Homo sapiens: one gene and its partner. The protein of the gene in region 1 interacts with the protein of each later gene in a biochemical or structural test. Each region holds a gene or a part of one and is shown on either strand. Other genes may lie near its edges. The genes, in order: TRAF3IP1 and UBXN10.

Region 1 (16,960 bases):
TGTGTGGCTCCGCCAGGACCAACCTCACTTCGAACCCGCTGCTCTGTCAGTACCAGGAAGTCCAGGCTCCCGTCCCTCGTCTCTCACGCTCCCAGCACACCCTCACTGTGGCCCACGATCCACCTCCTCAACACCTGCGCCCCTGTGCCTGCCGTGATCGGCAGGCCCTCTCTGTCCCGCCTTGCTCTCCAGGACACAGCTTCCCCACAGCCCTCAGCTGCAGCTGCTGCTCCTCCCACCGGCCTCTTGTCACGGGCCCAGAGGGAAGGTCAGTAATTTCCTTATGCTTGCTTCGGCTTCCAGATCACTCTCCCTAAAAACTGCCAACTTTAAATCTTGTCACCCTCGACCCCATCATTGCTGCCATCAGCTGCCAACCCATGGTCCCACCCAGTCCTCCTGGACCCGCCACTCTCACCAACGGTGCTCCTGTCTTACTTGTGATTTCAAGTATTGAGAAATGATCCTTCCAAAATCCTGGCCTTGGGTCCCTGAACCCTGCTGGGATGATCCCACCTCCCACACTCGACGCCCACTCCCAGGGGCACCCCTGTCACTACCACTAACAGCAAGCTCCAACCTCAAATCCAAGCGCCCCACTCCTTTACCACCACTATCTATATTCCCAGCTCACCGCCCTAGGACCTGACTCCAACAATCCTTCTATCCATCCGGCACCTTCAGCCTCTCAATCCTAATGCCTCCTCCTGACCTTCACCCCGAGGGCTCCTCCCTCACTCACTGGCATAAATCCCACATTGGTCATGACCGTGGCGCTTCCACATACTCCTACTCCTTCCCTTCTCTCTCGGTGCACTTGCTTGGCACAGCCGAGCCCTGTTTAATACAGCCTGTGCCCCCCAGTGCCTGTAGGTGTAGCCAACTGCAGCTGCAGAACAGGCCCCGCCACACCATCTTCTGTCTCTTTACGCCCAAGTCCACCAGATGCTGCCCTGAAGTCAGCTGTCAGCCACGGCCTCCGCCCAGGCACTATGGGCAGGCAGCCCATCCTCCTTTGTGGTGGAGACTGTCCTGTGCATTGTAGGAGGTTCAGCAACTGCCCTGCCCTAACCCCTCCCCTTCATCAGAACACCAGAAAATGTCTCCAGATCATGGCCCAGTGTCCCCAAAGTAGGATCACCCCTAGAGGAAAACCTCTGCTCCAGTCTCTTCACTAGCCCACTCTCGTGCACAGCGACTTCACCCAGCCCCTCTCTCCTCTGACACTCCTCTTCCCCCAGACCCTCTTACGGCTCATGAGAAAAATAAGTACCAGAAAATCACCTTAAGAATCTGCATCACACCATGTGCCGACTCCACCTCCGCGCCCGTTCCCACACCCACACGGGGACTCTGCTCCACCAAACCCCTGTCCCACGTCGCCTACGTCATCAATTTCCCCTTTCCACTGGATCATTCCCGTCATTAGAAAAATAATAACTCCCCTTGACACCACCTTTCCCACTTTCTAGTCTTATTCCTTCCCTTCTCTTTGTGGCAAAACTCCTAGAAAAACACATCTACTCCTGCCTCCAATCCCTGCCTCTTATTTGATCTGAAACCCACTCTGATCCATCCTATCTGTTGTTTGTCTTTATATTGCTTATGACTTTATTTTTTTTTTTGAGATAGTCTCACTCTGTCGCCCAGGCTGGAGTACAGCAGTGCAATCTCAGCTCATTATAACCTCCACCTCCCAGGTTCAAGTGATTCTTCTGCCTCAGCCTCCTGAGTAGCTGGGACTACAGGCACACGCCACCACGCCCAGCTAACTTTTGTATTTTTAGTAGAGACGGGGGTTTCACCACATTGGCCAGGCTGGTCTCAAACTCCTGACCTCAAGCCATCCGCCCGCCTCGGCCTCCCAAAATGTTGGGATTACAGGCGTGAACCACCAGGCCCAGCCTGCTTATAACATTTTGATCACCTTCTATTTTTAATTTTTCTGCAATTAAGCCCCTAATTTTTTTCCCCTATTTTTTCCTAATTCCCCTATTGTTTTCACGCTTAGAAAGTCTTCAATCTAGGGGTCAGAGAAATGCAGTCCAACATTTTCCCATAGATGTGAAGATGTATTTTACATGTATGCATGGTTTTTCTCTTTCATCCATCTGACATGTCTGTTGGCCTATGGTGTGAGGCGAGGGCCTACCCTCACTTTTTGTTCCTCAATAGCATGTTTCCAGCACCATGTGCTGCTTCCCTCCCCCTTCTCTTAGCGGAGGCACCATGCCCACTGGAGAACACACTGTGTGGCTGGAACTGCCCTGCTGAGCCAGCCTTACCTATCCATTTGTAGCGCCTCCATGCTGTCTTGCCGTTTGACCCGGGGAGGGGCTGGTCTTGCACTCCCAGGCCGAGGAATTCTTCTAAACCCAAATATTGGAAAACCAAAAAAGGAGTATGAAAGGCTTATACATTTCAAACTGGAAAAGAAAGCCCAGGTGAATGTTAACTCTCATCTCCAAGCCATAATCAATGTGCTGGTTAGGACACGCTACTCTGCAGAAGAGGAGGAACGTCCCAGTAACCCGACCAATCAGAAAGTGTCCATCTTTCCACTTGTATTTTCAGTAATTTCAAAATACCAACAACTGTCACTAATCAAAACATCACATAATTCAGCTATAATTTTGAATTCCCCTAAATCTCCAAAATATTATATCACTATATAGTGATATAACTCCAGTACAGAAAACTGATATACTTCTTGTATTCTTTGTATAAGTAATTCCTCATAAGTTAGCTCAAGCACTAAATAAATAGCAGCAGCCAGAAAGAGAAGCACAGCAGTGTCCTAGGTGTGATCACTCTGCTGAGGGAAAGGGATTCAAAGCACACAGACCTGATGTTGGATGAAAGCTCATTAGGAATTTCTGGAGTCTCTGGCACCTCAGACTTATCTTGGCCAGCAGGTCCAGCATCTCCTTCTAAACAAATGACAATCAATTAGCAATTCACAAAGGAAAACACACATAGATAACTATTTGAAAATACTATTTGCATCTGTATTTGCAGTTATTTGCAATCAAATACATTTGTAATTGCAAATACAAATGAGCAATTTTTCCATCAATCATGTTGATGAAGAGAAAATCGATGTCTGATATCTAAACTCAGTGAAGATTTGGGAAAATGGGCACACTCAAACCCAGGGAATACAAACTGGTTCAACTACTTCAGAAATAAAATTCAAAAGGCAGGCTGATCAACTGAGCACTTAAAGGAAATACAACCCAAGAGGAGAAATGGACACATGTCAAGATGTTCACCCATCGTCACTGGTAATACTGACAATCAATCAGTAACTAAGTAAATTATGGTACAGTCACATGTCAGCTCCCTTTTGTGTGAAACAATCCAGTACAGTAATATATCTAACAATTATATACATATGCATATATATATATACAGGGTTCTAGAAGAATATTCATTTAAGTTATAAGCAGTAGAATTACCAGTGCTTTTAATTTTTGTTCTTTTTTTTTTGCATTTTTAAATTTTTCTACATTGGTATACCATATTATGTTTATAATCTGAACAAAGTTTTCTTCATTTTGATAAAAAGAATTAATCAGTAAATAACAAGGCCTAAACTATTAAGACAAGTTTACTCCACTATTTAAAGTAAAAGGAATTAACACTTCAGAAAATAGTCAGAATTTGAATATTAGAAATATACTTTATATTCTGGAAAAAAATCCTGAAATGTATTGTTTTCAAACTTAAAACATATAAATTAAATTTCAAATTAAATTAGGGTAGTTGGCCAGGCGCAGTAACTCACACCTGTAATCCCAGAACTTTGGGAGGCCGAGGCAGGTGGATCACCTGAGGTCAGGAGTTCGAGACCAGCTTGACCAACATGGAGAAACCCCGTCTCTACTAAAAATACAAAATTAGCCGGGCGTGGTGGTGCATGCCTGTAATCCCAGCTACTCAGGAGGCTGAGGCAGGAGAATTGCTTGAACCCGGGAGGCAGAGGTTGCGGTGAACCGAGATCATGCCATTGCACTCCAGCCTGGGCAACAAGAGTGAAACTCCATCTCAAAAAATAAATAAATAAATAAATACATTAGGGTAGTTATGATCTTTTTCCATAAAATAAGTTACTTTCACTAATGCACTTTATAAAGCATGAATCTGAGAGTCCACATTCACATTCACACACATGCATACAATTGATATGACACACAGGTATCTAAGGCCATTCCTCACCTGCATCACTGGTGGAGTCACCTAAAGAAAAAGCACATCAGAAAATTAGCTTTCGTGTAGTCAACCTCAATACATTAAATGATGAGAACAGAATTGGAGAAAAAACACACTGTACATAATTTTGGATGTCTGCTAAGAAAAAAAGATCATTTCCTCATAGCCGCTTTTCTAATGTCCCTATTGCCATTTTGTTTTATTTTCAAAGATAGAAAAACAAAGAGCAAACAAACTGTGCATCATAAAATGGTACTAAATAGAAACAGGACACAGGGATGTGGAGAAAGCACATCGGAGAGGAAGTTAACAAGTTCATGAGACAAGAATCGACAAAGCCAGAGCCACAGAAAAAGTGCATCCAAATGTGAGGGAACGATGCAACAGTCTGAACCCGGCCAACCAAATCCCGGGCCGTTCCAAAGACTGGGAGACAGTCAACAACAGCCCATCTTATAGACATGATTGGTAAGCATTTTTCCATCAGCTCCTGAAAGCAGAAGAAAATCTTCCAGCTCAACAGAGGCCCACCTCTGCACCTTCACCCAGGATCCTTTTTCTTCAAGTGTTGTCTTGAGGACAAATGTGACCTAAACGGTCAAAGTAAATGAGCAGTGGCACCACAGGGGTGGGGTGATTCAAAACCACAGGTGGGAAATCTCTGTTTCACACTCTTAAGATGCACGAACGCATTTGCAGAAGAGCAGAAAGCGCATGGATTCACATGACAGCCCAGCACACTATACGGCAGAGAGGAGGCAGCAGGGCCTGATGCAGCGCCTCGTTTAACACGGCCCCGCCTCAGACAGGAACAGTTCATGCAGCCTCGAGAAATCAGCCTGGGTTATTGTGAGGGTCCACACCGAGCAGAGTGAGGAGCACTCTACAGACACCTCTAGCTCGTTTATTCACAGGAGGACTTTCTGTGAGCATAACAGCCACGAGCTCATAAATGCTGCCTTAAGAGGGTGGCTCTGGCAGGGAGAGAGGGGGCCAAGCTTGTGGATCAAGGGGAACCGGGAGGCTCTAGAGGACTCTATTAGTATGGGCCTGAGAACCTCCAGAGGTCACACCCCACAAAGTGCCACAGCACAGGGGGTAGCCTGGCACCCACCAGGGCCTAGGGGACTGGAGGGCACAGTGGTTAGCAGGGGGCTGGAGAATGTGGTTCCAGATAGTGCCACTACAAGGGCAGTTTCAGAGACCCCAGCACTTTGGGCCAATGGGGGCAGAGGACTCAGCTCAACCCTGGGATGGGACTGCTGGGGACCAAGAGCAGGTGGCAGAAGATCTTTTCCTCATGGCTGTGCGGCCTGGAGCGTGTGCTTAGCAGAAACCAGCACTGAGAGTCCTCGTGCGACCTGGGGGCAGGCAGCAGACACAGTTTCAAATCCCCGGCTCTTTCTTCAAAACACCAGGGTGTTAGGAACAGACCCTGGATTAACACAGCACTCAAAAAGGTGCCTGAGAGGTGCAGTTATTCAACCACAAGGCCGATACCCAGAAGGAAAGTCAGCACAGTGAACTCTCTACCTTTCAATGGATACTTCCAGTCCCCGTTACCCAGAACCCAAGGCACCTGCCACATGGCCCACACCATCCTCCCCGACGCCTGTGCTTCCACAGCGCCAGTGCTCTGCCAGCTCCTGCACTCACAATCTCGTCCTAGGTGACCCAGTCCCCACCCAGGCTCCTGCCATCACCCAGCGCCAGCAACTCTCACAGCTCCTCTCTAGCCTGGGCCTTCCCTCTACGCTCCAGGCCAGCTCCCCCAGCACGTGCCAGCAGCCCTGGAATCCTACCACTTCTCCCCTCCCAGGGCGCCTCCACAGTCCAGGCCTCTCTCTCTTCTCTGCACAATCTTTAACCCTCCCTAATTAACATGGCCACTCTTTAAAATCTAAATATCATTATACTGCTCCTCCTAAAGATATAATTAGCCTCCCGCTGCTCTTCCAATAAAGGCTAAACTCCATAAGCTGGCACAGGGACCTGGCTCTGGCCCTTCCTCTGGGCTGAGCCAGCCCTGCTGCAGTCGCATCCCAGCCGGGATCTTGGTTTATACAGCCCCTTCTGCCCTGCAGGCTTTCTGGGCCACCCTCACCAACCAAGGCCCCTCCCGTCCCAGACTGCCACCCCATCAAACGATTTCGGTTGATCTTCGAGCCTCATCTGCACCAGGAAGGCAGGAGGCCAGCCTGACTTCACTGGCTCATGCGCTCCCAGCCTCAGGGCTGACATGCAGTAGGCCTTCAACAGATAATTTTCTGTTTGAACAAATCAACAAACATCAGCCCTCCCCTGGCCACACCCCACCCTGCCGCTGCCACCTGCACAAGCCTTGGTTACCTGGGCACTGGTACCCTTGCAGGCCTGTTAGGAGCTCCAAGGCCTCAAAACACAAACATTGAATGGCTATTTTACCAAAGTTTTTTTAAAGGCTGAGAAAATTTATGGTGAAAGTAAAATCCCACTGAGGTATAATTCAACACTCAAAGAAAATGACAGACAGAAAAATCATGGTGGCCACAGCACTGTGACCATGAAGTCTGGGGGGTACACCTCTTGACTGGTGGGGCTCTCCAAGTAGTGACCCCGAAACTTTTCAGGGACCACTCATGACACCCCCCAAGTGATGAAACATGCCACCTCCTCTCACTTACAGAGCACGGGGGAGCACACGAGTGGGTCCCATGCTATCAAGAAACCACCATGTTCGATTCTAGTTTATGCAAAAAGGCAGAAGTGAATCACTGTGAATCACTTGCCACGTTCAGACCCAAGAGGAAAACCTCGGGCTCTGGGCTGCGGCCCTTTGAGAAGAAGGTTCTGGAGGGCTCACTCTGCTCTCGCCAGGAAAGGGCGAAACTGGACCATTCTTACCTTTCTGCTTCTCTGTGGGGTTGGGCTGAATATTCTCACACCGCAGACTAGCTGAATTATCATCTGAAATACTAGTTGAGTTAATATTAGCTTCTTTTGTTCCTGACATAAAACAGTTTAAAATTAGTCATTAAGACTGTACACCAAAGGGCCGGTGATCAGCGGCTTCATTAACATAGAGCACACTTACTTATCTATGTTTTCCCACACTGCAAGTTAGGACTGACAAAGGACTGACCAAAGGCAGCTTTTAGAAAACATGCATCTAGAATGTTCCTCCCCCATGGGCGGCTCTGGGGTGAAAGGGAAAGGACACCCCAGACTATGAGTGGATCCTTGGTCTACTCAGGCCAGGAGGAGCAGACTGCCCCCGCCCCCCATTTCTGGAGCTACCTGACACTGCCAGTCTCCACTCACCTCCCCAGTAGAGCCAGACCCAGCAGCTGAGAGGCTGCAAGTAGGCGGCTGTTTCAGGAATGCAGGAAGAAAAGAAAAATATTTTGGACACAGTGCACAGTCCTGGCCATATTGAAAACTTCCACATATTGTCTACTAATTACTGACTGATGTTCCAAAGTTTATGAAGATAGAAAAAATATCAAATACCTGAGAAAATATTTTTGCTGTGAAAAAAAAAACAGGCTGGGCACAGTGGCTCACACCTATAATCCCCGCATTTTGGGAGGCCTAGGTGGGAGGATCACTTGAACCCAGGAGTAAAGACAACCTAGGTAACACAGAGAGAACTCGTCTACACAAAAAAATATAAAATTTAAAAAGCTAGCCAAGCATGGTTACACACACCCGTAGTCCCAGCTACTCAGGAGGCTGAGATGGTAGGATCACTTGAGTCCAGGAGTTTAGGCTGCAATAAGCTGTGATCACGCCACTGCACTCCAGCCCAGGGCAAAGAGTAAGACCCTATCTCGGGGAAAAAAAAAAAAAAAAAAAAGGCCAAGCACAGTGGCTCATGCCTGAAGTCTCAACACTTTAGGAGGCCAAGGCAGGCACCAGCCTGGGCAACATAGCGAAACCTCATATCTACAAAAATTAGCTAGGCATGGTGGCAGGTGCCTGTAGTCCCAGCTACCCAGGAGGCTGAGGCAAGAGAATCACGTGAGCCCAGGAGGTCGAGGCTGCAGTGAGCCATGATCATGCCACCACTCTCCAGCCTGCATGTAAGAGCGAGATCATGTCTGAAAAAAAAAGGGTAGGAGCCAGGTGTGGTGGCTCACGCCTATAATCCCAGCACTTTGGGAGGCTGAGGCCGGTGGATCATGAGCTCAAGAGAGCGAGACCATCCTGGCCAACATGGTGAAACCCCATCTCTACTAAAAATAGAAAAATTAGCCGGGTGTGGTGGCACATGCCTGTAGTCCCAGCCACTCGGGAGGCTAAGGCAGGAGAATCTCTTGGACCCGGGAAGCAGAGGTTGCAGTGAGCGAGATCGTGCCACTGCACTCCAGCCTGGTGACAGAGCCAGACTCTGTCTCAAAAAAAAAAAAATAGGGGGCCCAGATGAGGGGCTAGAGGAATAGGTTCTATATTACAGCAGGACCCAGAGCTGGAAAACTAGCTTCAGTCAAAGGACCTACCACTCTAAAAAGAAACTGAGAGACAAAAATAAAATTGTAAAATGTTCCCTTTCCTGAAACACAATCTTATAATTCTTAAAACTATTCAAAACAGCTTACATCAGAATCAACCTGACATTAACTATCATATAACTGTTTTATTTATAATGTAATAGAACTACATAAAATAGATGACACATAATTTTGCAAAGACATTTTTATCAATCTGTGAAAATGATACTGACTTAAATAGTCTGATTCAAACAGTTATTTATATTTTACTCAGGGTAACCAGAGAATAAACATGAAATATTAAGTTCTTAACAAAAAAAAATCTAAAAATAAACATAAGTTTGGCGGTTGTAGATGCTCAACTTTAGAAGAAAACACTCTAATAATTTTAAGTTGTGTACTTGATTTCAAAGTGTCAAATGTTTTCCATACTCTACCATATTCACCATCACAGTAAGCAAATTATAAATGCATTATCTTCATTCTGTAGTTCAGAGACCAATGACACTTTCACAATTTTACCTTTTCAAAGTTCTAGTGGTATTCTTATGTAAGCTTTACTAAACCCCAAGTTCACACCGAGAGAAAGAACATGAAAACAGACTATAGCTCACTAATTATACCACACTGTAGAATCAATTCATAATCACAGAGAAGGGACTAACCAATTTGTCAAATAATAGTTTTAAACAAATAAATAATGCACTTATAAAATGAAAATGACGGCCAGGAGCGGTGGCTCACACCTGTAATCCCAGCACTTTGAGAGGCCCAGACAGGTGGATCACCTGAGCTCAGGAGTTTGAGACCAGTCTGGCCAACATGGTGAAACCCCATCTCTACTGAAAACACAAAAATTAGCTGAACCTAGTGGCACACGCCTGTAATCCCAGCTACTCAGGAGGCTGAGACATGAGAATCCCCTGAACCTAGGAGGTGGAGGTTGCAGTGAGCCAAGATCACACTACTGCACTCCAACCTGGCAATAGAGTGAGACTCCATCTCAAAAAAGAAATAAAATAAAATAAAAATGACTATGAATTGGCAAAATAAAAAAAAAAGAGTCACAGCATAAGCACAATCTGTTTTCTAGAGCTACCTGGTAACCAATGAACCTTGTAGGTGAGAATGTGAGCCCTGGCTCAAGACGCCCTAGGGTGGAACACTGGCGCTTCCTCTCTCCATGGGCTATGCTTTGGTCAGGTCCCTCAGCCTTCCTGAGCCGCAGTTTGCCCAGTTTGCCCCGCCTCACAGAGCCATCCTGAGTCAAATGAGATCTTGTGCATACAGCAAGGAGCACTGTGCCCGGCTGGGAGGGGCCAGTCCCTATCAGTCACTGTTATTGAAACTAATCAGACGTACGGCCCATAAATACAATTGAAAGAGGTCCATCATTCGGCCAGTGTTCTGCGCAAATTTTAGCTACACTAAGTTAAATGTCATCAAATAGCCAGTGTTTTTTTTTTAAAAAAAAAAAAAAGAATAGAAAAACATTTCTGGGACAATTAGAATACAGCTTGGGTTTTAGATGCTATCAGGAAGCAATAACTGAGTTCAGTTAGACAATACTTTTCTGGCTATGTAGGAAAATGTACTTTTTTTTAAAGCTGCATGTCGAAGTATTTAGAGATAAAGTGTTAGGATGTTTTTTTAACATACTTTGAAACAGTTCATTAAAATATGTAACTATATGCTGGGTCTGCTGGCTTATGCCTGTAATCCCAGCACTTTGGGAGTCTGAGGTGAAAGGATCACTTGAGCCCAGGAGTTCAAACCAGCCTAGGCAACAAAGTGAGATGCTCTCTCTACAAAAAAAAAAAAAAAATTAGCTAGGCATGGTGACACATGCCTGTAGTCCTAGCTAGTCAAGAGGCTGAGGCAGGAGGATCACTTGAGCCAAGGAGTTCAAGACTGCAGTGAGCTATGATCATACCACTGCACTCCAGGCTGAGTGACAGAGCAAAGCCCTGTCTCAAAAATACACATAAGAAGCCGGGTATCGTGGCACACACCTGTAGTCCCAGCTACTCAGGAGGCTGAGGCAGAAGAATCGCTTGAACCCGGGAGGCGGAGGTTGCAGTGAGCTGAGATCATGCCACTGTACCCGAGCCTGAGCAACAGAGTGAGACTCTGTCTCTGTCTCTGTCTCTCTGTCTCTCTCTCTCTATATATATATATACACACACACACACACACACACGCATAACTGTACATTAAGCAAAATGGCAAACGTAAAACTAGTGAATCTGGGTGAGAGGTATATGGGCACTAGTTGTACTATTCTTTCTACTTTTCCATATTTTTCACAATAGAAACAGTTAGAGAAGTAAGCAAAAATGAAATGAGGGAAACTAAGCAAAATAAAGACCTGACTTAATGTTCCAGAAAAACCTGGAACTGTCACACAATTGTAAAGCGAACAAAGCATGCCTTACAGCTTGCATAACAACTGGAGTACAGGAAGAAATTGTTCATGTTTTGAAAAAGAAATGGATAAATTCCTTGTTGAACTCTTTAATCCACCCAAAAAATCAAAATGGTAACAATAAAACCCACAAATTCTCTGATGATGACCCAGGCTATGGGCACAGGGCTCACGAGGGCCGGGTCAGTCAGTGCAACAAAGGCCGGCTTTGACAACATGGACTTTTCTTCGAAGCACTAAGAAGGAAAGGTACTGTGAGGACCAGCTCATTAACCAGACCCAATAGCAGTGCACCCTCAATGAAGAAATTAAGGAACTGTAACAACTGCCAGCAAACTCTGAATTCCAAATGTTAAACCATGACCAGTGCAAGGTAACACCTGCAACTGCGAGGACAGAGACCCCAGGTCCGCGCTGTGGCAGGACCCTAGGGGAGCAGGGCCAGGGTCGGGGGGAGGAGAAAGACAAGGGACCGGGAGTCTCTCCAGAGCCCAGACTCTGCTCCTGGCCACTGTTCCCAACCCCCCCGCCCCGCCACCCACCGCACACTGCCACCCAAGGACAGCGGGAGACTCTGCTCCCCAGCAGGTGGCATCAGGCTCCATCCCAATCTCTGCAAAAAGTTCAACCCAGAAACCACGTTTGCAGTTTGTGCTTCTTACTGCCTGGGTTTGTGTTATCTTCACACTTGTTGATATTACCTACACAGTCCTCACTACGTGTCTGGAGAATGATTTCAATTTGTTCTAAATCCATTGCCCATCTCAGGATGAGCGCTGTCTCGCCCTGATCTGGGGCTGGCAGCTCAGCAGAGGTGATCCGTGATAAAGCGGGTTAGACCGCGGCGTGCCTGGGGCAAGCCACCACTTAATGGACACCTCGTTCACCCTCAAGGCAGGTATCTTTACGCCCATTTATGACGAGGAAACTGTGGCTCAGAGAACCCACTCACGTGGCTGGCTCAAGGCCATGAGGCAGGTAAGCAGGAAGTGGGGAGTCATCCCTGTGGCCTCAGAGATGAGGTCCTAGCTAGCTGGGTGGGGGCTACCAGGAGTCCACCCCTCAGGCTTTCGCCACTGCCTGCTGCCCTCTCCTGCAGTGCAGGATTGCAGTGTGCCTGGGTGTTTCCCCCCAGGCGCCTGGAGATGAGGAAAGCTCCCACAAAAAGAAAACATACATCACCAAGATGTGGTTGAATGGTAACATGCATGCCTGTATGGCAGGGGCTCTCTTCAGTGGAAACACCCTGCTCCAGCTCAGTCACCTTTTCCTCCGCCATCCCATGCTACTGAAGACCCAGACAACTCCCATATAGTCACCCTACTTGGAATAAAATAACCACAGATCATCTTTCACACTGCGGCTGCTGTACCAAGTGCGCCCACTCCTGGAAATGCCAGCTCTCAGGGGAACGCACACAGAGAGAGAAGGATGTGCTGATCGGTATTCCAGCTACGCTCCAGAACGTGTAAAAGTCAGACAGATACAAGGCAAGTTGGGCCCAGCAAAAATTTCCTCTTCCCCTAAAGTCTAATTTTACACTATTTTTACCTTAAGTGAAACTGAAGAATTCTAGCATCTTGAAGAATTCCGTCTGAAGTCACAGATGACAGTGGTTACTGATACTGAACCAAGGACCACCCCCTCTGAGGCAGCAGGACGAGGGCTGGGCACACCCACCACACGGCTGGACTGAATGTGATTGGCTGTGACAGGCCAACTTCCCCAACGTGCCTAACTAGCACTTTAAACATCTCTACTGCGAGCATTTTCTGAGTAGAATAAAGCAGAGCAGGACGAAGACATAAAAACCGTTTCTCTATGTCATCAGCCACACCACTGTGAGATCCCGACAGCAAGATTAAGAAAGCATTTTGACTGAAATGTAAAAATAATCTATGTATAAAAAGGCATATAATTAACTAAAAGCTGAGTTAATAAAGTTACATAACTTAGCATATTAAAGCAAATAAAACCTCAAGTTATGTCCAGTCTTCAATACATCATGAAAAAGTCTCATGAACATTAAAGTAGTTAGAATAATTTTTTAACAATGTATAACTACATTGAGATATAACCATTCACATTAAAGTGGTGAGGAATTTAAACTAAAGAATATATTTTTCTTACCTATTTCTGATGTTGTCGTTTCCTGATTTGGCTCATTATTTATTCCAGACACTATGGAGTCTAAACTTTTAGCTGAAATATTATCCTCCTTCCTTCCTGACATAAAATAGTTAACAACAGATTAAAATATTATAAAAGATTTTGTGTTTGGTTGTTTTAGCTGGGATTTATAAGGGTTACATTACACCAAGGTCACCAGCAAACTGTCTTGTCAACTAAATGGTCAATTCTCAGCCTCCACATGATTCCCCTCCTTAGAGCTTGACAAGAAGCCCCCTCTCCTTCCCTAACACTTTCTTCCTCTCCAAGTTTTCCTCCAACTTGTTGGCCTTCTGTTTCCTTTGCAAGGATGATCCTCCCTCCTCCTCTTCCTCCTCCTCCTCTTCCTCTTCTGACCTGGGGGACCACAGCAAGCTCTGGAGTTCACCACGTCCTTTCCTACCTACACACGCCCCTGGACTAATTACTGCGCAAAGGTCCATGTCCGTAAACATCACTTGTATGCTAGAACTCTCCATTTTTTGTTTTTCCCTTTGGTTTCTCCAGCTCTCTCCTGATCTCCAAGTCAATATATCCAGCTGTCGACTAGATGTTTCTACTTGGTTGGTCCATAGCCATCTCAAATTTGTTGTCCAACACAGAATTCCTAACACTGCCACCCATTCCACCAACCAGTGTCTCCCAGAACCGTCTATGTCAATAAAGGCCACCCCCTAGGAGCCCAGACCCCTCCCACAATGAATCTCATCTTTGATTCCTTTCCGTTCAAACAAGTGGCATCCAACCTGCCAGCACAGTAAACCCACTCTGCTGTCACCACTGGCACTCTGGTCCAAACCATCACCTCCTCTCATCCAGATGCCATGGCCCCCTCCTCGCTGCGCTGCAGCCTTTACTCCTGCCACTCCACAGTTTTAAAAGGAGGCCTTCTACAACCTAAGTCAAATCTTGCCTCGGTGCTGCTTAAAACTCTTCAAGGACTTCTGTGTGCACTCACTGTAAACCACACAGCTGCTGTGGACCGGGAACAGCAGCTCCGGGACCAGCAGCTCCAGGCCCTGCTTCCTGGCCCGGCCCTTTCCCCTATCACTGTTCCTCTCTCCACCCACCTCACCACTCACACACCTGCATGTCCTCCTTCACCCAAGTCAGCTCTCTGTCCAGATGTCCTCCCTCAGAGAGGCCCTCCCTGCTCACGCCCCTCATTCCTGCTCCTCTTGGCTTCATTTTCCTTGAAGATTCATCACAAACTAACATGCACATATGTACCCCTGTGTTCTCTTTATTATCATAAATGTCTGCAGAATCAGTGAAGGAAGGCTCAAATGGACAATTTAAGCCTGTGATTGACTCAGGGTAGGAAATCCTCACCTGGCCAGGGGCAGCCCTGCATGGGGCCAACATGTCCCTCTGCCCCCTCTCCACCCTGGCCAGAAGGCAGTGTTCTAGAGCGCAGGCCCCAGGTCAAGCAGGGCCACACCTATGCCAACCACCCCCACAGACTTCCACATGTTCAATGACCAAGCAGAAGCACAGGACCAGGCAGTAAAGCTTTCAACTCTCAACATTCACTCACAGCCTCCACTATGGTTCACTTAGCTTACCAAGCTGTTTCATGCTATGTTCCTTCTTAGCTTTACAGTAGGAAAAGTTATGTTCCTTTTCAGGGGAAAGACTATTTTCACTGGTTTTAGGGTCCCTTCTTCCTGACATAAAATTGCACAATGAAAATATATATTAAACTTAATCTGTAATGTAATGTAAAGCAGTTAACAAACAAATGAAATTAAAATGTACTCATTAAGTCAAAGTGATCAGCTCTGTATGCACTACTTAGAAATAAGCAAAAATTATAATATTCTCAGGCAGAATGCTTTCTGGATTCTGCAGGGATTCCAGAATGACTTTAAGAGTCTAAATATGTTTAACAATGTGATACCCTCACACCCTGTAGTAAAGTCTCATTCATCCCCTTGAGCAAGACACAGAGGTCCAGTGTGTCACACACCTCTGGGTACTGAGCATTTGCCCAAATGAGAACCTACTTAAGCGAGGCAGAATGTTCAGGCAGAGTGCCAGCTTTGCTGGGGAACCCACAGGGAGGTCAGTGCCCGGCTAGCAGGAGGGGAAGACAGGAGTCCACTGAGCTGTTGATAGCTCAGGGAAGCTCAGTGTCAAAAAGCCCATAAATGTCTGCTAATAAAATCTCTTAAGACCATACAAAAGAACCCTAGAGCACAAGCTCACCAGTAAACACAGATGCACATATCAGAAGCAATTAGAAAAGAAGAGCAGATGATACAACTGTCTGCTTAGGAAAGCCAAAAGAATCAACAGAAGAACTACTGGATTAAGAGGCAACAACAGGCCAGGCACAGTGGCTTACAGCTGTAATCCCAGCACTTTGGGAGGCTGAGGCGGGCAGATCACTTGAGGTCAAGAGTTCGAGACCAGCCTGGCCAACATGGTAAAACCCTGTCTCTACTAAAAATACAAAAAATTAGCTGGGCGTGGTGGCATACACATGTAATCCCAGCTACTCAGGAGGCTGAGGCAGAAGAATCACTTGCAGTGAGGTTGCAGTGAGCCATGATTGCGCCACTGCACTCCAGTCTGGCAACAGAGTGAGACTCCGTCTCAAAATAAATAAATAAATAAATAAATAAATAAATAAATAAATAAATAAATAAAATAAAATAAAATAAACCAGCGAGCAACCACTGTGACCAACATACGCAACCAAGTACACGCAACGTGTTCTCAGAAGAGGGGGACACCTTCACTAAGCTGAAGTTAGAGGTGCCTAAACTTCCTAAACTAATGAAAGCATATATTTAACACAAGTCCAGTTAAATTCTGAGACGTTAGTTTATTTTGCAAGAGTGGAATTCTTGAGTCATGAAGAGTTTTTAAAATTCATCCGGAAGAATAAGCAAATAAGATGGCTTAAAACTTTTTGGAAAAGAACAATGATAGAAAACTAATAGTAAAAATAAAAAAGTGGAAGTAAAAAACACCACACACAAAAAAGCCCGTAACCCAGACTACAAAAGGCTTCACAGAGCAGGAGAGAAGCATTCAATGAATAAGTGATCCTGGAACCACGGATGGATTATTCTGACAAAATAGATTCAGAGCCTCACCTTATACCATGAATTAAAGTAAGAGATAACATAAGAAATTAAGTAAAAAAAAATGTATGATAAAGCACAAATCTTCACCTCTCAAATCTCTGGACAGATTACCAAAAAAAAGATTAGAGGCCTCAAGCACATAACAGTTTAACACTTAGGCAAATCAGAAACCAAACCAAATATAATTAGTAGAAACAAACTGAAAAAGAAACACTCATGCAAAAACTGGCAAATTGGCAGATGTCCTTAACATACAGCACGTGCAAGCAAATCAGTAAGAACCCAGAGAAACCAAAGAACAGGCAGGTCAGAGACGCCCAAAACACTCACACGCGATGACAAGGACCATTTCACTGGTCATCAACGTTTTTGTTTTTCGTCCATCAAAATCAGCATGCCTTAACAACACTGGAGAAGGTGTGGGGTGAAGGGTCATTAAGGGCACGCAGTAGCCATAATGCCACACCCTTTGTGCCAGCCACTGCGCTTCTGGAAACCTACCCCACAGCGGTCAACCAAAAGACAGCAAAGGCTTCTGGCACTAAGCTGGTCACAAACGCATTACTAATTATTGTGCACATGTGGAACCT
Region 2 (6,994 bases), on another chromosome or scaffold:
CTACCTTTCTGGCACAAAACTTTCCTCATCTATCAAATTAGCTAAATGATCTTAGAGGTATTACTTAAGTACCTCAGAACATCAGTCTTTTTGTCTGTAACATGAGGATAATAACATGAAATAATGTAGGTAAGGTGGGAAGCACCAGGCTTAGTGCATGGTAGAAACTTAATTAAATGTTAAGCGTTTTTTGTTGTCGTCGTTGTTTGCTTCGGGTTGTCTGTTTAGTGCTTCCTATGTGCTAAGTTCAAAAGCCTTCCTTGTTTTGCTCTAGAACTTTTCCCCGTGTGTCCTCGGTGATTCTACTCCTGGTTAACCAGCTGGGTGAGTCCTGAAACTCATGCCTGCCCTGTCCACTGCACAGAAATGCAGGGAGGTGGACTGCAATGAGCTACCACCTACGCAGTTGCCTCAAAACATGTGAAAATAAAATCCCGAGTTGATCACTTCTCTTCTAATTCCACATTTTACTTACCTCAGATTCACTTCCTGCAGAATGATTTGCACTTCCTGCAAATTCACTCCTTTCATCACAAAATCTTGAACAATGTAATCTGAGCCTCTCAGGGTTTGTATTCTAACCTCACCATTCTGCACATGTAACCACTGCTGCCTAATTTTAAGGAGTATCTGCTTCCTCTCCACTCAGACCAGGACCAAACGCAACACATTATCCCTATATCTTCCTGATGTCCTGCTCAATTCAAAATCTTGGACAAAGCTACCCTCTTTTAAAGGCCTCTATGTCTGCTGCATTCCACTCACAGCCTGAGTCTCTCTCCACTCCCATTTTCCACTTCTCCCTCGTCTTTCACACCCAGTCTGGCTGCTAGTAGCTCAGGAGCCTTCTCCTTAGCAAACTTTTGGCATCAAAAAAGACTGCCCATCTCCTTGTTAATTTCATCTATTTTCTGATCAACTGTGAAGAATGTGTTTTTCCCCCTTTAGTCTCCTTCTCAAGTCTTTCTCTGGCAATTAGCAGCTCTGCACTTTCACTCAGGATGGCAGGAGAAGGTCATAACTGTCCAACTGTTCTGCCAAAGATAAGCTCCACAGGCAAACCCACGCCCCTCTCGGCCCACCCTCCCCACTTGTGGAATGGCTATTAATTTGCCACAGCTTCTACAGAATTATCACAGGCTTGGCTTCCAACACCCACACATGCCTCAGGAAGGTTTAACTGTCAGTGAGTTTGGTAACTTAGAAACCTCTTCCTTAACAACTTTGATGAGGAGAGTCATGTGTTCTCACAGGCTCTCTGTGGGATTATTTTTAACAGTAAAACTTGAGTATGTGCATGCACTTTCTATACCTTTTGGTTCCATATAATTATCCATGTTCAGGGGGTGTCATATTCAAGACACCCTGGTCATAAGATAACATGACTGTGAGCTATCTCAGAGAAAAACCTCAATTATGACTAATTCCTAGGAGCCCACTCATGGTTATTTAGAGACTAACACCTCCTTCAGGTAAAACCATTATATCCAACCTGCTTTCATAACCCACTGCCTCCTCCCGAGCACAGGGACCATCTGTTACACGGAGGGAACACCAGCTCTCCCCAGCACCCATCACACAGGGATGGGCGGTGGGGGAAACAGGTGTTTGGGGATCTGGGCCAACTGTGCCTTTATATTCACACCTCAGGTCCTGAACTCTGCCCACCACCCTCAGTCCAGGATTGAGGCAGCAGCCATGATTCTCCCTGCTCAGTTCACTTCACCACCTCTAGGCCTGGCAGCCACTCAACCACAAACCGATTTGACAAGATCTAGGCGTAGGCATCTATCAAGCTGCCAAGCTGAATAGGCGAGTGGCCTGTTTACTTAAACACAATAGCTGCACCCCAGCGGCCTGCTAGGAGTCAGGAAGCAAACACTGCCAACTGTTTCCAAGAAGTTGCCAGAAGGGCAGGTGCCCATTCCTTAAGATTCACCACCAAATCAACTGGAAAGAAGGAAATGTGGATAGGAGAAGCTAAAGCAGGGCTCCTGCTTTCTAAGGGTGCCCACCACCCACCACAGGGTCAGACCACCCTATTTCACTCACAACCCAAATCTAAGCCTACAGTATATGCAGTAAAATATAACCACCTACATACCATCTGCTGGTATATACCAAGATACATACATTTGAATTGGTCTTTTAAAACTGTATCAGTTAATCCTATCCGTTGCCATCCCGCCCCCCCCAACCCACACCCCCACCAGGCTTTCAGGATAAAAATGCTCTGAAGAACCAACAGGAGATGGTGGTTGGCCTGAGAATGAAAAAACTCTGGTACCATTCCCAGTTCTACCCCAAACTAGGGATTAGAATACACTGTCCTATGCAGAGTGCCACACTGAACCACAAGCCACCAAGTGATCAAATGTTTGGATAGAGAACTGGGGATGATTCCAGCGTCAGAAGGGCAGGGAGGTGGTGGGGATAACTCAATTAAGTCCAAGTTCCAGCGCCCTAGAAGGCAACAGGCTTAAGAGGCAGAGGAGGGATCTGGGGGAGGGGCGAGAAAGAGCGTTTAGAAAGCGAGAATTGACTTCAGAGAAAGAGCACAGGACTGGGGGAGGGGCCCTCTGGTTCTCGTCTCTGCCCTGCCGGAGACTGGGACATCCTTTTCTCTCCCTGGGTCTGTGTCCCCGTCGCTACATCCCAGCCTGGAGGGCATGGCCCAGCGGTTGCATAGGTCCCTCGGTTTCTGCAGAGCCCGGGAGTCACCCTATTTTGGTAAAGGTGAGCTCTGGCCAGGCTTGCTTTGCCTCGGGAGCAGACTTTTCTCCAGGCTCCTCGCCTGTCTCCCGGGGTTTGCGTCCCCCGGGCTGGGTCTGGGGAGGCCCTCCCGGGTGATGTGCTGGGGTCTCGGGGACTGGCCTCCCCCGGCCCCTTCCAGGCCTGGCGGAGGCCAAGGGCAGGCCGCGGGATCGGGCAGCCGCTCTCACCTAGCCGTTCCGCTCCATCCGCCGCCTGCGCCCGGGCTCTGTCCTGCTGGTAAACAACCCTGGTCTCCCGGGCAACGCCGCAGGGTGGGGGGCCACGTGCTTCCGGCGTGACCGGAACCGGCCTGGGTCGGGTGGGGTCGGGTGGGGTCGGGTGGGGGCCGCTGGGCCAGGAGGGCGGAGGCCGTGAACTCCAGGTCGGTGGATTGCGAGCCTGGAGTGGATTGCCTGGCCTGGAGGCGACAGGGACCCGCGGCCTCCTTCTCTCCTCCTCTTCCTAGCGTCACCGCCTCTGTTTCTCTCTGGGGGAGAGTGTCTGGGAGAGGGAGAGCCCTGGCCGGGGCATGGAGGAGCGGGGAGCAGCACCACTAGTCTCAAAATCCGTTTCTCACCTTGGGTCAGGCCCTGACCCTCTCAGTGTCCCTGGTTTTAAAATGAGGCTGTGGGACTGATGGATTCTCGGAACCCTAAACTCTGAGTGGATGCTTCTAGGGTATCTGAGTTGCGGGGAGCAGGGCCCCCATCCTCAGTACAGCCCTTTCAGCGCCAGTTCCCTGACCTCTTTTCACATCAGCCTCCCACTCCGGGGCCACACTGGGAACCTTATCAACAGCATCTGCACCTCCTTTGATGTCCCCAGCCACAATCTCTTCCACTTCCAGCCACTTGAGTCACTTCCGCTGTATCTGTTTTTCACCATCTTTGGGTTTCCTGTCCATTGCTGTCTCCGCTTTCCCCCTCGATATCAATCTGCTTCTTCCCTATCCTGGCCCATTACCTCGGCATTCTCAAAAGGATCCTCCCTGCCCGAGTCCTACTCTCCTTCCATCTGATGAAACCTGAAGCCAAACCAGTCCACCTACACACGGGTATTGAAGAAGTCTTGGCCAGCCACACACCTTGGTGTAACAGAAACACGAGGTCTCTAACCTCAGTTAGACTCTCAGCCCTGCACTTCCATCCCCAACCGACCACTGGGTTCTCTCTCCCTCCTTTCTTCTTTTTCTTCCTTTTTTAAGGGGAGACAGGGTCTCGCCCCTTCACCCAGGCTGGAGTGCAGTGGTGCAATCACAGCTCACTGCAGCCTGGACCTCCCCAGCTCAGCCTCCCTTGTAGCTGGGACTACAGGCGTGCACCACCATGCTTGGCTAATTTTTATTATTTTTTGTAGAATGGGGTTCTGCCATGTTGCTGAGGGTGGTCTTGAAGTCTTGGGCTCAAGTGATCCTCCCGCCTCAGCCTCCCAAAGTGCTGAGATTACAGACATGAGCCACCTCGCCCAGCCTCTCCTTTCTTCTCAATGGCTATTTCAAAACGTTGTTTTGCTTGCGAAACCTCCCACCTCTCCCTCTCCCACCTCCCTCCCTCCTCCCTCTTAGAAGATACCTTTACTGCCCTCTTCAGAGAGAAAATAGAAGCCATCATATGGAAACTTCCTCAGCCTTCTGCCATCAGACCTGCAAACTTGCCTGCCTACACTTCCTTGCTTTCCTCCCTCCCTCCAGTTCTAATGTCTTCTGATTCTCTCCAAGGTGAATTGCTCCTCCATGGGTCGTGAAAGAAGATCATGTCAGTGGTGGTGTTTCTGCTCGTCTCAGAAGGGAAGTCTGTGACCCGTGGGAGTTGCTGGGGAGGGCCTGGTCTGGGCCAGGCCTCTTCTTTGGGTTGCCCCCTCACACACTCTGGTCATCCAGGAAGCCTCTGTGGCCCTCGGAATGTGTAAAAGATGGTGGTTTTAGGAGCTGCTGGTTTTGCAACTGAGTGCTGACGGCTTATTTCTTGTTAATGATTCTGTCAAAAGTGTCTTAGCGATGCTCTTCAGCCCTTCATCACCCACCCAAAAAAGATTAAAGTGGATTCTTCATCAGCTATTTTAAAATCACCTAAGAATTATACAATCCTTTGGAGAATCAAATTGGCTTCTCACCGTGTGTGTGTGTGTGTGTGTGTGTGTGTGTGCGTGTGCGCACGCACGCGCGCCTTTGCCAGTGCACAGTGAAATGGCGGTCTGTTTAATGTCAGCAGTACATGCAGTTAACGTCAGCAGTACCTGCCTTTTGCTCTCCAGTGTTGTGTAATGCCCAGCCCCAGGGGGAGGCAGGAGAGGAGGAAAGGAAGGCGCCAGTCCATTGCTGTGCCTCTGCTGCCTTTGTGCCCGACCTTCTATAAAGAGGATGTCTTCAAAGGACAGACCTGATAATGCCTGGTGTCTGGCACATACCCAGAGTGGATCTCAGTAAACATGGGCAGAGGTCATTGCCCTGCCAGCTGAAATGTGGACTCACCTTCCTTTCTAGCCATGTCCCAATCTACTCTCCAGCTCTCTCCCTGGGCTGCAGCCAGCTTGCTCCCCAGATGGGCCCCAGCTTTTTCATCTCCAGTGTCTTTGCCCATGCCTGCCCCACCCTGCTCTCTTCCTTGAAGTTAAGCCAAAATGACTGATCCTTCAAGGCCCATCTTAAAAGCCACCTCTTCCGTGAAGCCCTTTCCTGACCACAGCCTCCCCACAAAAGCTCATGTGCTCTCTCTGGTCGCCTTTGGTCCAGTGGAACATGCCCAAGATGGTGCTGTGCACCCTCCCTAGGTCGGCTCCCTTCATCTTCACAACGCTCCTTAATGGAGGCATCATAGCCCTCCTTTGCTTTAGAAAACAGTGGAGCCTCAGGGTTCCCCCTGGTGAAGGAGCAGCAGAGCAATTTTACAACCTGCATCCAGCAGTTTCCAAAGCCCACCCTGGACCCCAGAGTCCCACCCCCAAGCTCCTCACCTGCGTGTTCCCCCATGGCCCTTATCTGTGCTGTCCGTTGCACTGGTCGTGGGGACTGCAGGCATGGCCTCTGACGTCAAAGCTTGAGTATCAATCCTGGCTCCACCACTTGCCAGCTGAAGACGTTAGGTAAATGATTTACCTTCGCTGGATGTCAGTTTCCGCATCTCTAGAATGGTGATGATAAGCACAGGATTGTTGTGCGGCTGAAATGAGGTAACACACGTGCCAAGTGCTTAGTGAGGGCTACTAACTCTTGTTGCATCATCTTCACTTACAGTGTACATCTCCTTCAGTAGGTTATGAGCTCCTTGAAGGCAGGAACTTGCCTGTCTCGGAATCCCCTGCCTTGTCCACACAATGCTTACTTTGTGATACGTGCTCGGCAATGATGATGGTGGTGCTGATTCCAAGGCTAGCGTTTCCACTGAGCGATCCAGCAAGCTGCTAACTGGTATCCTCCCCAACCATATTTGGCTTGGGGTCCAAATGACCTCCCCAGGGGCTTGCTGAAGGCGGGGGCCCCGGTTTCTTAGCGGCTTGTCCCCACAGAGTGTTTGGCCCCATTTTGAATTAGTGATTTCTAGATTTCAGAGTCTATAGCCAGTGTCCTGCTCTGCCTGTCCTTGGTCTCATTAGACATGTGGATTGAGATCATGGATAACCTTTAAGCAGAAGGTGAACCAGGTGGATATTCTAGTAGCAAGGCCAAGAGGCTGGCAGTTAGTCATGGCTCCTGTGATCAGCTTCCTAAGGGGATCTGCAAGAGGGAAGTTTCTGGATGATGAAACTTAACCCTTGAAGTACAGACATGGGTCACTTAACCATGGGGATACATGCTGACAACTTCATTGCTAGGTGATTTTTTCATTGTGCAAACATTGTGGAGTGTGCTTACCCAAACCTAGATGGTCTAGCCTGCTACACACCTAGGTTATATGGTATAGCCTGTTGCTCCTAGGCCACAAACCTGTACAGCATGTTGCCGTTCTAAATACTGTAACACAATGGCAATTGTAACACAATAGTAAGTATTTGTGTATCCAAACAGATCTAAACATAGAAAAGGTACAATTTAAAATATGGTATAAAAGATAAAAAAAATGGTATGCCTATATAGCGCAGCTACCTTATAATCTTATGGGACCACCATCGTATGTGTGGTCTGTCATTGGACCAAAATGTCATTATATGGTGCATGACTGTACCACAGCTTTTTATTATTTTCCCCGTATTGTTGGAAAATATCCAAAAATGTATAGCCTGCTTTCCAGTCTTGTTAAGCAGA

Evidence for each region.
Region 2: the proteins of TRAF3IP1 (region 1) and UBXN10 form a complex in vitro, tested with the Homo sapiens proteins (one study listed by BioGRID).

The regions. Positions count from the first base shown.
Region 1 is NC_000002.12:238,334,734-238,351,693, reverse strand, and holds part of TRAF3IP1 (TRAF3-interacting protein 1), read right to left. Parts: intron 14,943-16,960; coding exon of another isoform or gene 14,841-14,942; intron 13,333-14,840; coding exon 13,237-13,332; intron 7,894-13,236; exon of another isoform or gene 7,640-7,893; coding exon of another isoform or gene 7,513-7,639; intron 7,198-7,512; coding exon 7,096-7,197; intron 4,240-7,095; coding exon 4,219-4,239; intron 2,931-4,218; coding exon 2,846-2,930; intron 2,370-2,845; coding exon 2,286-2,369; intron 1-2,285.
Region 2 is NC_000001.11:20,182,102-20,189,095, reverse strand, and holds the start of UBXN10 (UBX domain-containing protein 10), read right to left. Parts: upstream 3,001-6,994; 5' UTR 2,943-3,000; exon of another isoform or gene 476-2,942; intron 1-475. UniProt on the Homo sapiens protein: VCP/p97-binding protein required for ciliogenesis. Acts as a tethering factor that facilitates recruitment of VCP/p97 to the intraflagellar transport complex B (IFT-B) in cilia.